Linked DNA regions of Homo sapiens: all the other regions are linked to region 2. Evidence: fine-mapped expression QTL. A gene starts in region 2. Each other region holds a variant in brackets. All regions are shown on one strand. Distances are between the middles of the regions.

Region 1 (4,239 bases), 170 kb after region 2:
CCATTTGTGATTTTTCTTCTTACCGAGGTGGCTAAGAAATGGAAAATTTGTGAGCTAATAATTCTCACAGAGAAAAATGATTGCAAACTCTTTCACGCTACAAAAAAAAAAAAAAAAAGTGGGGGGGATTTCAAAGAAAAGAATGGGACCAGGTGTGGAGGCTCACATCCATAATCCCAGCACTTTGGGAGGCTGAGGTAGGAGGATCACTTGAGCCCAGAAGTTTGAGACTGACCTGGACAATATAGAAAGACCTATCTCTACAAAAAATTTAAAAATTAACCAGTCATGGTGGTGTGCACCTGTAGTCCCAGCTACTCGGGAGGCTGAGATGGGAGGATTGCTTGAGCCCAGGAGGTTGAGGCTGCAGTGAACCCTGATCATACCACCGCACTCCAGCCTGGGTGACAGAGTGAGACTGTCTCAAAAAAAAAAAAAAAAAAAAAAAAGAGAAAAGAAAATAAAAAGAAAAAAGGGGGGAGGCCTCAGGCTTTTTTTTTTTGTTTGCTATTTTATTATTTTTTATTATACATATTTAAGGTGTACAACATGACGTTTTGATATACATATAATCAGTCAAATGGTTACTATATCCAAGTAAATGAACGTATTCATCATTTTACATAGTTACCCATTTGTGTGTTTGGCAAGAGCAACCTAAAATCTATTCTTTTAGCAAAAATCCCAAATACAATATGATATTGTGAACTACAGTTCTTATGGTGTACATTTGATCTCTGTCTGGTGGGAGAACGGGTAGTGAATGGTGACTCTCTGGAGAGGCTGTCCATGGGAGCCAGAGACCTGGCCAGAGAGCTGGGGTCCGGCAGTGTCAGCTGCTATGTCCCCAGAAAGGCCTGATTGTGCAGTACAGGCCCTGAGCACAGAAACTCCAATGCAGGCCGGGCATGGTGGCCCACGCCTGTAATCCCAGCACTTTGGGAGGCTGAGGTGGGCGGATCACGGGGTCAGGAGATCGAGACCATCCTGGCTAACACGGTGAAACCCCATCTCTACTAAAAATACAAAAAATTAGCCGGGCGTGGTGGCGGGCGCCTGTAGTCCCAGCTATTCGGGAGGCTGAGGCAGGAGAATGGCGTGAACCCGGGAGGCGGAGGTTGCAGTGAGCCAAGACCGTGCCACTGCACTCCAGCCTGGGTGACACAGTGAGACTCTGTCTCGAAAAAAAAAAAAAAAAGAAACTCCAATGCAGCCATGAGGTCAAGACCATGTGAAATGAGCTGGGCGTGGTAGCTCACGCCTATAATCCTAACACTTTGGGAGGCCGACATGTGCAGATCACTTGAGGTCAGGGGTTTGAGACCAGCCTGGCCAACTTAGTGAAACCCCATCTCTGCTAAAAATACAAAAATTAGCCAGGCATGGTGGCGCGTGCCTGTAATCCCAGCTACTCTGGAGGCTGAGGCAGGAGAATCACTTGAACCCAGGAGGCAGAGGTTGCAGTGAGCTGAGATTGTGCCAAAACACCCCAGCCTGGGTGACGGAGAGAGACTCTGTTTCAAAATATATATTCATATATATATTTATATATATATGAATATATATATTCATATATATATTTATATATATATTTATATATATTCATATATATATTTATATATATATTCATATATATTTAACGTAAAATGTACATTTCAGAGAGGCATAAATAGCAGAGAATCACATCTTGGTGAGGTTGGACAAGGTTGGAAAACATAAGGAAGGTGAGAGTATTCCAGCCAGAGGACAGAGGTCAAAGGCTGTAAAAAGCAGGAAAGCAGGAACCATGCAAATGTGACCCAACCAGGAGTGACC[G/A]TGTGAACAAGACAAAATGCCCATGTGACCGTATTAGTAAAAGGAGGTCGTGTGATCTCATACTCATATGCATATTTATACTCACGCATATTCATAAACTGGAAGGAAATCACCAAAACATTAGAATACTGACGGTGATGGTCTCTAAATGATAGCACCGTGGATGTTTCTTCTTTTCTTTTTTTCAAAGGTTCTCATTTTTTTGTAATGAACCTCAATTATTTAATAGGCAAAAGGGAGGACTGTTGTTTGCGTGTCTGTTTTTATGTTTACGTTGGCAGATGTTCTTTTTTTTTCTTCTTTTTTTGAGCAGAGTTTTGCTATTGTTGCGAAAAGCGAAGTCCAGCCAGGCTGGAGTGCAATGGCACGATCTCAGCTCACCACAATCTCCGCCTTCCAGGTTCAAGCAATTCTCCTGCCTCAGCCTCCTGAGTAGCTGGGATTACAGGCATGCGCCACCACCATGCGACCGGCTAATTTTGTATTTTTTTTAGTAGAGATAGGGTTTCTCCATGTTGGTCAGGCTGGTCTTGAACTTCCAACCTCAGGTGATCCGCCCGTCTCGGCCTCCCAAAGTGCTGGGATTACAGGTGTGAGCCACCGCGCTTGGCCTACGTTGGCAGATTTTCCAGGTGAGAATTTCAACTCAGAGCAATATCATGTCAAGGACAGAGTCTTTGTCACAGGGATGGCTTCACAGTTAGAAAATCATTAGTGGGATGCGGTGGCTTACACCTGTAATCTCAGCACTTTGGGAGGCTGAGGTGGGAGGATGGCTTGAGCTCAGGAGGTCAAGGCTGCAGTGAGCTGTGATCACGCCACTGCAGTCCAGCCTGGGCAACAGAGGGAGACCCTGTCTCATGCATGCAAAAAAGGAAATCATTAAGAGTTTTCCAAAACATGCTCTACATAATGAAAAATATTCCAGATGGCACTAGGCAATAATATTCATTTCTAAACATTTATATTCATGGAGCTTAGACACTGCTGCTCCTAGTTGAGCCAGTCCATGTTTTCCTTCACACCTTGGGCACTGGTTGCTTAATTATTCACTGTTATCCTCACCAACTCACTGAATCTGCTGCCTGCTGGGAGGTGTTAAAAAAAAGCCCTTTTTTAGAGAGATAATTGAATCGGCTGAGGGAAGTGGAGTGTTTTATTTTTAGTGGGGATGGTTGGCTACATTCCATGTATTCTTTTTTAAAATCTTACTTGAAGGATTGTTGCTGTCTGGTGATGGCATATAGCTTTTCCATTTTGCTATTCTGCCTTGTTTCTGAGCAAGGTATAGACACACGGAGATAGAATTCTATTTGTCGCATCTTTATTCCAATCTGGGTGTGCACTTCTGTGTTCAGAAGGCAGCTGAGGTCATTAGACAGCAAAAACTCCTATGCAATTTTGGACTAGGTAAGAGGAGTTGCACCTTTCCACAAGTCAGGTTTGCTGGCTCAGGGGAGCCATGTCTCCAGGCCATCAGCTCATGCAGGTTAGGGAGTCAGGTGGCTCTTTCCTAGGAGAACAGGTGCAGAAAGGGTCGGCTAGTTTTTTCCTCTGTATTGATTACAATTATCAACGAATCGACTGAATTGATGAGATATTTTGGCACTATGTTACTTGCCTTTAGTCCTGCTAATAGGACCCAGCAGAGAGCTTTTGAAGACACTGAGCTCAGAGCGAGCAGACTTTAAAAATTGTTATTATGGTAAAATATGCATAACATACAATTTACCATTTTAACCATTTTTTTATTAAATTTTTTTTCTCTTTTTTTTTTGAGATGGAGTTTCACTCTTGTTGCCTAGGCTGGAGTGCAATGATGCGATCTCAGCTCACTGCAACGTCTGCCTCCCAGGTTCAAGTGATTCTCCTGCCTCAGCCTCCTGTGTAGCTGGGATTACAGGTATGTGCCACCACGCCCGGCTAATTTTGTATTTTTAGTAGAGACGGGGTTTCTCCATGTTGGCCAGGCTGGTCTTGAACTCTCGACCTCAGGTGATTCACCCCCCCTTGGCCTCCCAAAGTGCTGGGATTACAGACATGAGCTACCGTGCCCGGCCTTTTTTTTTTTTTTTTGAGATGGTTTCTTACTCTATCACCAGGCTGGAGTGCAGTGGTGTGATCTCGGCTCACTGCAACCTCCACCTCCAGAGTTCAAGCAATTCTCCTGCCTCAGCCTCCCGAGTAGCTGGGATTACAGGCACGCGCCACCACACCCGGCTAATTTTTGTATGCTTAGTAGAGACGGGGTTTCACCATGTTGGCCAGGCTGGTCTCGAACTCTTGACCTCGTGATCTGCCCACCTCAGCCTCCCAAAGTGCTAGGATTACAGGCATAAGCCACGTGCCCAACCCCAAAATTTTTCTTCAAGAGATGGAGTCCCGCTATGTTGTCCAGGCTGGTCTCAAACTCCTGGGCTCAAG
Region 2 (4,239 bases):
AATCGCTTGAACCTGGGAGGTGGAGGTTGCAGTGAGCTGAGATCTCACCACTGCACTGCAGCCTGGGTGACAGAGTGAGACTCCCTCTCAAAAAAAAAAAAAAAAAAAAAGAACTCGGGATAGGGGGACATGGGTCCCCAAGCCCCTGAATTCAGGAAAACTATATTGAACTTTGTCACCACACATGAAAACTGCAAGGGGCCACAGAAAGCTCCTAATTCAATGCCTCTTTTTCATTTTTTTTCAATGCCTCTTTTAATGTGGAAACTAAAGCTAAAGAGGAGATAAATGGCTACAGAGTGTCACAGGCAGGACAGAACCCAGGGCTCCCTACCTCTAGACTGTTTCTCCAGCAGTCTAGCGACCACTCATCCTCCTTTTTTTTTTTTTTTTTTTTTTTTGAGACAGAGTTTTGCTCTGTTGCCCAGGCTGGAGTGTAGTGGCACAATCTCAGCTCACTGCAAGCTCCGCCTCCTGGGTTCACCTCATTATCCTGCCTCAGCCTCCCGAGTAGCTGGGACTACAGGCGCCCGCCACCACGCCCGGCTAATTTTTTGTGTTTTTAGTAGAGACGGTGTTTCACCATGTTAGCCAGGATGGTCTCATCTCCTGACCTCATGATCCACCCGCCTCGGCCTCCCAAAGGGCTGGGATTACAGGCGTGAACCACTGCGCCCGGCCCACTCATCGTCCTTCTGCTAATAGCACCCTGATCTTCCTCTGAGGAGCCACCCCCTGTGCCTGGCTGAGCCCTTATGCTTGAGGGGGGCTCTGCCCACATCTCCAGACCAAGTCCACAAATGCCAGTCCCTCAGGCCCAAGCTAAAGTCAGGGTCAGACACAGGACTCCACAGAGCCATCCGGGGTGAACAAGAGGCTTCTGGGGGCGTTTTCTTCCACTGGAGCTGGCCTGTGTGGGGCTTCCCCAAACATGAAGGCCCAGGAAAAGCCTGTGTGCAACCCCAGAAATGAGACAGAACTAGAGGGGGAGCAGGAATAGGTCCCTAGGTCCAACCAGGTGACATTGGTTTAGCTCAATGTCGGGTAGTATCTAGCCTTCCATCAGATGCCCTTTTTTTTCTTTTTTGAGAAGGAGTTTTGCTCTTGTCGCCCAGGCTGTAGTGCGGTGGCACAGTGGCACGATCTCAGCTCACTGCAACCTCCACCTCCCCAGTTCAAGCGATTTTCCTGCCTCAGTCTCCCGAGTAGCTGAGATTACAGGCATGCGCCACCACCCCTGGCTAATTTTGCATTTTTACTAGAGACGGGGTTTCACCATCTTGGCCAGGCTGGTCTCAAACCCCTGACCTCAAGTGATCCGCCCGCCTTGGCCTCCCAAAGTGCTGGGATTACAGGTATGAACCGCCGCACCTGGCCGACATCTTTCTTTTTTCTCCTTTCTCCATCCTAACCTTGCCAGTTTTCTGCCAGGCGGGATACAGTGTTTTCAAATCCCAGTTCCATCGCTTACAACGTGAGTCGCTCCATCTCTGAGCCCGTGTTCGCATTTGTAAAATGGGAATGACGCCGCCAGCTCTTTGGGTTGCTGGGAGGATGAAATGAGAAGACCCAAGTAAAGCACTTACGTCAGTGCCCGCCACCCCGGGAGGACTCGCATATTACTATTAATATATTAGGCCAGCTTACACTGGGTTTTGTCACTGACAATAGAGTTTGAGCAATCCAGGGCCTGTTACTGACACCACACCATGCTATAGTCACAAAATCACATATGCTTCCAGGACTCCTCCTCGAAAGAGTAAAGCTTTAAGTGTAGTGTGTGCTCAAGGGCTACGTTTCAGTTCGATGGATACCAGGAAGACACCTGTTCCCTGCGTCCTCTCCACGCCCCAGGCCGGGCGCCCACACCCTGCTCCTCCTGACGCCGCACAGCCACGCACCCAGGTACCCTCTCCGCCACCCCTTCTCCTCGCCTGCAGGCGGTGTCCACACCGCCCTCTCCGCTCCTGCAGACCGGGTCCTGGAGGGCGGCCGGGCGGTCCACGGGCCGGTGTCGCGCCGCCAGAGAGAACGCGGCAACTCGCTTCAGCCGACTCTGGACTCCTGACCTGGCGCGACCCCGGAAGTGGGCGGGCGCGCGACCTCGAAGCCAGCACCGACGCGGCGCACCGCAGCCAATCGCACGTCCCAGGTCGCAGCGTCCTGGCGAGGCTGGCCAATGGGCACGGGGCCTGATGCCGCTTCCGGCCCACCCTCTTGCCCGGTCCCCGGGAGGGCCGGTCCGCTCCTCCCGGACGCCGAGGACCTACCACCGCGACTTCGCCCCGCCCGGCGCGGGCCCAGGTGAGTGCAGAGTGGCGCCCCAGCTGCAGCGGCGGCCAGGGCCGTGGGAAAGAATGGGGCGATGAAGGGCTGGGCACGCCGCCTTCCCCACCACCCCCAGGCTGTTTGCTCGCGGGGAGGGAGGAAGGAGGGACCGCACTTGTCATCTCGCCTGCACACCTGGAAGGTGCCGCCCCCGTCCCCTGCCCTGGAACGCCCACAGGCTAGCGAAGTTGCCTGGTGCAGGTGACGCCCCCATTCCAGCCTTTGGACTGGAGCCATAGGAGAAGCGGATCGCGGGATCCTGGTTGTTTTCGAGAATCACGCAGCAAGGGGCCTGCCTATCCCTCTCCCTGGGTATTGATGGGAGCAAATCTGCTTGTCGTAAGATTAGCTTTGGCAGATGGTCAGGGCCCAGAGCTCCGACATATGCTACTGGTGGCAGTGCAGGGGCCCCACCTGTCACCCAAGTGCACAGCACTGGGCTGAACGCCAGGCTGACTCAGGACACCTCCTGCCCGGTGGGGCTGGGCGGACCCTATTCTTCAGGAAAGAATCAACTACCATGCAAGTTCTGCTGCTTTTTCCCACCTTTTAGGACCCTGATGTCGCTTTTGAACAGCCCCTGCACCTGGCAGCCAGCGAGCTACTGTAGTAGGCATTGCCGACTGTTTGCATACCGGATGGGAGTGACAGTGTAATAGAAAAACAAGCAAGAAACCTTTTAGGTAGGACTCCTAAGGCTCAGAGGAAGTAAGTGCTTGCGGAGCGTTCTTTGTACTGTGTCTTTTCCTCTACCACATCTCTGTCCCCGCCTCTCTTGGGTGCTTTTTTTGGTCTCTGAAAGGATCTGTGAATAAACTGAGACAGAAAGGCAGATGGCTTTGAGGGTGGCGAGCAGACCTTCTTCGTGGAAAGACTGAAGGTTCAACTCAAATTCATCTTGTAGAAATTCTTGGTGAATTCGAGGCTGCTGATTTGGAAGATTTTCCTCCATCCCTCTAACCCTACAAAACAAACAAGTCCCAGGATCCCTGAATCATGGGGCTTCATGTTCCAACCCCCCTTTCAAGAGTCCTCTGACCCAGTGACCCTGTGTAAGTTGCCTGATCAGCTCACAGCCAGAAAGTGGCCCATGAGGAGCTAGGGGGAGCCTCTTGGCAGAGGCAGAAAGAAAGTGTGGCTGACCAAGGATGGTTACCGGATGTCAACTGTAGCTAGGAAGTGACGACAGGTGCCTGGGTCTCTACTCTGAAGGGAGTTTGTAAATACAGCAACCCCCCACCCCTCCCTTTCACTGTAGCAGAGTCTTCTCCCATTAACTGCCCAGAAGATTCAATGATGTCTATGAGGAAATTAGTGCTTAGTCATTTATTTGAAGGAAAGTCAAAATCTCCTTTCATTGAGCTCAACCTGCAGACTGAGTCTAGCTAAACTGCTTGCTTATCCAGTGAATTCTGAGCTATCTTTGTTTTGTTGTTGTTGTTGTTGTTGTTTGTTTTCCTTTTTGAGACAGGGTCTCGCTCTGCTGCCCAGGCTGGAGTGCAGTGGCACAATCATAGCTCACTGTAGCCTCAAACTCCTGGGCTCAAGTGATCCTCCTGCCTCAGCCTCCCAAGTAGCTAGGATCACAGGCATGTGCCACCACACCTGGCTAATTTTTTTTTTAACTTTTTATTTTTACAGAGATGGGGTCTCCCTGTGTTGCTTAGGCTGGTTTTGAACTCCTCGGCTCAAGCGATCCTCCCACCTCAGCCCCGGAAAGGGCTGGGATTACAGGCATGAGCTACTGCACCTGGCCTCTGAGCTATCTTTGAAGGCTAACTTATATTTAACACTATAGAAAGTGACAATTAAAAAAAAAAACCTTCGTCTTCCCCTAGCATTTTATTGAGGATTTTCCCACATACAGCCAAGTTGAAAGAATTATACAGTCAGCATCCCCATCCCCACCAA
Region 3 (4,239 bases), 190 kb after region 2:
AGCCACCATGCCCAGCCTCTCTGTTGCACTTCTTAACCCCTGACTTTGATCATTCTTGGTTTTGGTCTGTCTCCCTTCATTAGAACATAAGTTCTGGAGGCATAGGGGATTTTTCCTATGTTGATTATCTTGAAACTCAAGAGCCTGGAACAGTGCCTGGCACATAGTAGGCACACAATAAATAATTTTCAACTGCCACTGGCCTTTTTTCTGAGATGGGGGGTCTTGTTCTATTGCCCAGGCTGGTATGCAGTGGCACAATCATGGCTCACTGCAGCCTCCAACTTCTGGGCTCAAGTGATCCTCCCACCTCAGCCTCCTGAGCAGCTGGGACAACAGACGTGAGCCACCACACCTGGCTATATATTTTTTTCAACTCAATTTTAAATGGCTACAGTGATTGGTTTAGAAACAGACATGTAATCTACCAGTCATGACGGCTCATGCCTGTAATCTCAGGACTTTGGGAGGCCAAGGCAGGAGGATTGCTTGAGCCCAGGAGTTTGAAACCAGCCTGGACAACATAGTGAGACCCTGTCTCTACAACAAAATTTTTTTAAAAAATTAGCTGAGTGTGGTGGTGCATGCCTGTAGACCCAGCTGCTCAGGAGGCTGAGGCAGGAGGATCGCTTGAGCCTAGGAGTTCGAGGCTGCACTGAGCTATGATTGCACCATTGCATTCCAGCCTGGGTGACAGAGCAAGACCCATCTCTAAAAAAAAAAACAAAACAAAAAACGAAAACAATGTATTTTGTTGTTGTTGTTGTTGTTGTTGTTGTTGTTTTTAAGATGAAATCTCGCTCTGTCACCCAGGCTGGAGTGCAGTGGTGTAATCTCGGCTCACTAAAACCTCTGCCTCGTGGGTTCAAGCGATTCTCCTGCCTCAGCCTCCTGAGTAGCTGGGACTACAGGTGCACACCACCATGCCCAGCTGATATTTGTATTTTTAGTAGAGATGGGGTTTCATCCTGTTGGCTAGGATGGTCTTGATCTCTTGACCTCGTGATCCACCCCCCTCGGCCTCCCAAAGTGCTGGGATTACAGGCGTGAGCCACTGCGCCCAGCCCAAAAACGATGTTTTTAAAGAAAAGAAACAGATATGTAATCCACTTTGAGCTAGAGAGACAAAATGAGGCTTTGACATGGGAGAAAGGGGTCCTTTCTCTTGCCCTTCACTTGCCCTGGAAGCTTGCAGGCTAGAACTGTCACCACTGTCACATATCATAAAGGGAAAGCCTGCTTGAGAGTAGCCAGCAGAGGAAAGCCAGAGAGATAAAGCGAGGTCAGGGGTTGGTGACATCATTTGGCCTCTGTATGCAGCCATACCTGAAATAAACATCCAGTGGTGTGCTGGTAAATGTTTAACAATCAGCTCTGGGGTGAGGGGTAAGAGAGCCCTGATTCATAGCATCTGCCAATTTCCATAGTGTAAATATTCTCACCAGGCTGATTGAACTCAGGCTTGGGAGAGATTGCACACAGTCAGTAAGCTGCTCCATCATATCACTGCCCTGACTTCGAGTTCAGTGAATAACCCAAGATATGCCCTTCTTGCTTAAGTCAGCTTGTGTTCGGCTTTCGGTCACCCAAAGATCCCTGATACAGGTGCTGATAAAATAACAAGCCAAGGCTGGGCTTAGTGGCTCACGTCTGTAATCCCAGCACTTTGGGAGGCTGAGGCAGGCAGGTCACTTGAATTGAGGAGTACAAGACTAATTTGGCCAACATGGTGAAACCCTGTCTCTACTAAATACA[G/C]AAAAATTAGCCGGGGGTGGTGGCAGACGCCTGTAATCCCAGCTATTCAGGAGGCTGAGGAAGGAGAATCGCTTGAACCCTGGAGGCAGAGGTTGTAGTGAGCTGAGATCACACCACTGCACTCCAGCCTGGGTGACAGAGTGAGACTCTGTCTCCAAAAAATATATAAATAAATAAATAACAAATAAATAACAGCACAAACAAATGTGAAATTGCCCTTGTGACAGGCACAAAGAAGAAAGGCCCGTGAGATAGCTTGCTTGGCAGTGCTTACAAAGCCTTATGGAGGGAGGCATAGGAGGGAGGACCAGCCTGGGCAACAAAGTGAGACCCCGTCTCCATAAAAAATTAAAAAAAAAAAATAGCCAGGCATGATGGTGTGCACCTGTAGTTCCAGCTACTTGGGAGGCTGAGGCAGGAGGATTGCTTGAGCTCAGAAGGCCAAGGCTGCAACGAGCTATGATTGAGCCACTGCACTCCAGAGCGAGACCCTGTCTCAAAAAAATTGACAATGAGATATCACTTCATACCTGTCCGAATGGCTATTTGAAAAAAGATGAAAGATTAAGTGTTGGTGAGGATGTGGAGAAAAGGGACATTCGCACACTGTTGGTGGGAATGTAAATCAGTACAGCCATCATGGGAACCACTGTGGAAAACAGTATGGAGATTCCTCAAAAAATTTAAAAATTTAGCATATGACCTAGCATATGATCTAGCAATTCCACTACTGGGCATATAGCCAAAAGAAGTAGAATCAGGCTGGGGCGTGGTGGCTCACGCCTGTAATCCTAGCACTTTGGGAGACCTGAGGTCAGCAGTTCAAGACCAGCCTGGCCAACATGGTCAAACGCTGTCTCTACTAAAAATATAAAAGTTAGCCAGGTGTGGTGGCACGTGCCTGTAATCCCAGCTACGCAGGAGGCTGAGGCAGGAGAACTGCTTGAACCCAGGAGACAGAAGTTGTGGTGAGCTGAGATCGTGCCACTGCACTGTAGCCTGGATGACAGAGTGAGACTCTGTCTCAAAAAAAAAAAAAGTAGAATCAGTACATCAAAGAGATATCTGCACACTCATGTTAATGACGTCATTATCTTTTAAATTTTTTTTTCCTTTTTTTTTTTTTGAGACGGAGACTCGCTCTGTCACACAGGCTGGAGTTCAGTGGCGCAATCTCAGCTCACTGCAACCTCTGCCTCCCGGGTTCAAGCAATTCTCCTGCCTCAGCCTCTCGAGTAGCTGGGACTACAGGCGCCCGCCACCATGCCTGGCTAATTTTTTGTATTTTTAGTAGAGAGGGGGTTTCACCATGTTAGCCAGGATGGTCTCGATCTCCTGACGTCATGATCCGCCCGCCTCGGCCTCCCAAAGTGCTGGGATTACAGGCATGAGCCACCACGCCAGGCCAAATTTTTCCTTTTTTAAGTCTTTTGCACTCCTGATTGACAGCATTATTCACAATCGCCAAGATGTGAAATCAACCTAAGTGTCCATCACTGGATGAATGGATAAAGGAAACGTGGAATACTATTCAGCCACAAAAGGAGGAAATCCTATCATTTGCAACAACATGGGTGAACCTGGAGGAAATTATGTTAACTGAAATAAGCCAGGCACAGAAAGACAAATACTGTGTGATCTCACTTACATGGGGCATCTGAAAAAGTCCATTTCAGAGAAGTACAGAGTAGAATGGCCTGTTATTCCATCGTCTGCTCTGTGATATGGCAGAGCCCAGGTTACCAGGGGGCTTGGGGTAGTGATAGGGGAGGAAGTTTGGGAGATGTTGGTCAAAGTTTACAAAATTTCAGTTAGATAAGAGAAATAAGCTCAAGAGATTGGTTGTACAACATGGTGACCAATATATTGGCTGGGCAAGGTAGCTCATGCCTGTAATCCCAGTGCTGTGAGAGGCTGAGGCCAGAGGATTGCTTGAGCCCGGGAGTTCAAGACCAGCCAGGGCAAAATAACGAGACCCCATCTCTACAAAAAGTTTAAAAATCAGCCAGGCGTGGTGGTGCGCACCTGTAGTCTCAGCTACTCGGGAGGCTGAGGAGAGAGGACCACTTGAGCCCAGGAGTCTGAGGCTGAAGTGAGCTGTGATTGTGCCATTGCACTCCAGCCTGGGTGAGAGAGAGATACCCTGCCTCAAAAAATAAAAATAAAATAACAATATGTTGTTTTCTTGAAAAATGCTAAAACAGTAGATTTTAAGTGTTTCCACTGCAAAAATTACAAATGTGAGGTGATGCGTATGCCTGTTGGTTGGCTTGGTTTGGCCATTCTGCAATGAATATGTGTTTCAGAACATCATGTTGTAAACAATAAACATATACAAGTTTAGCTGTCAGTTAAAAAATAAGTAATAACAAATGCAGAAAAAACTGACTGGGTGCAGTGGCTCATGCCTGTAATCTCAACCCTTTGGGAGACCAAGGCTTGCAGATCGCTTGAGTCCAGGAGTTTCAAGACCAACCTGTGCAA

The links. PIP is the estimated chance that this variant, and not a neighbour inherited with it, causes the effect. A credible set is the group of variants that fine-mapping cannot tell apart.
Region 1: its variant is the best candidate, but not a certain one, in a credible set for the expression of TECPR1 in whole blood (TOPMed, PIP 0.55).
Region 3: its variant is the best candidate, but not a certain one, in a credible set for the expression of TECPR1 in whole blood (INTERVAL, PIP 0.84).

What each region holds. Positions count from the first base shown.
Region 1 is chr7:98,079,097-98,083,335 of GRCh38, reverse strand. No RefSeq gene overlaps it. Among named protein-coding and RNA genes, the nearest start is that of LMTK2, 26 kb to the left of the region's middle. The variant G/A (reference allele first, on the strand shown) is at 1,816.
Region 2 is chr7:98,250,191-98,254,429 of GRCh38, reverse strand. TECPR1 (tectonin beta-propeller repeat containing 1) reads left to right here and starts at 2,198. Exons shown (of 26, transcript NM_015395.3): 1 at 2,198-2,304; 2 at 2,882-3,036. LOC124901706 (a long non-coding RNA gene) reads right to left here and starts at 2,071. Exons shown (of 2, transcript XR_007060448.1): 1 at 1,902-2,071; 2 at 1-1,546. RefSeq lists silencers at 1,912-2,011, 2,102-2,491 and an enhancer at 1,808-2,551.
Region 3 is chr7:98,060,353-98,064,591 of GRCh38, reverse strand. No RefSeq gene overlaps it. Among named protein-coding and RNA genes, the nearest start is that of LMTK2, 44 kb to the left of the region's middle. The variant G/C (reference allele first, on the strand shown) is at 1,756.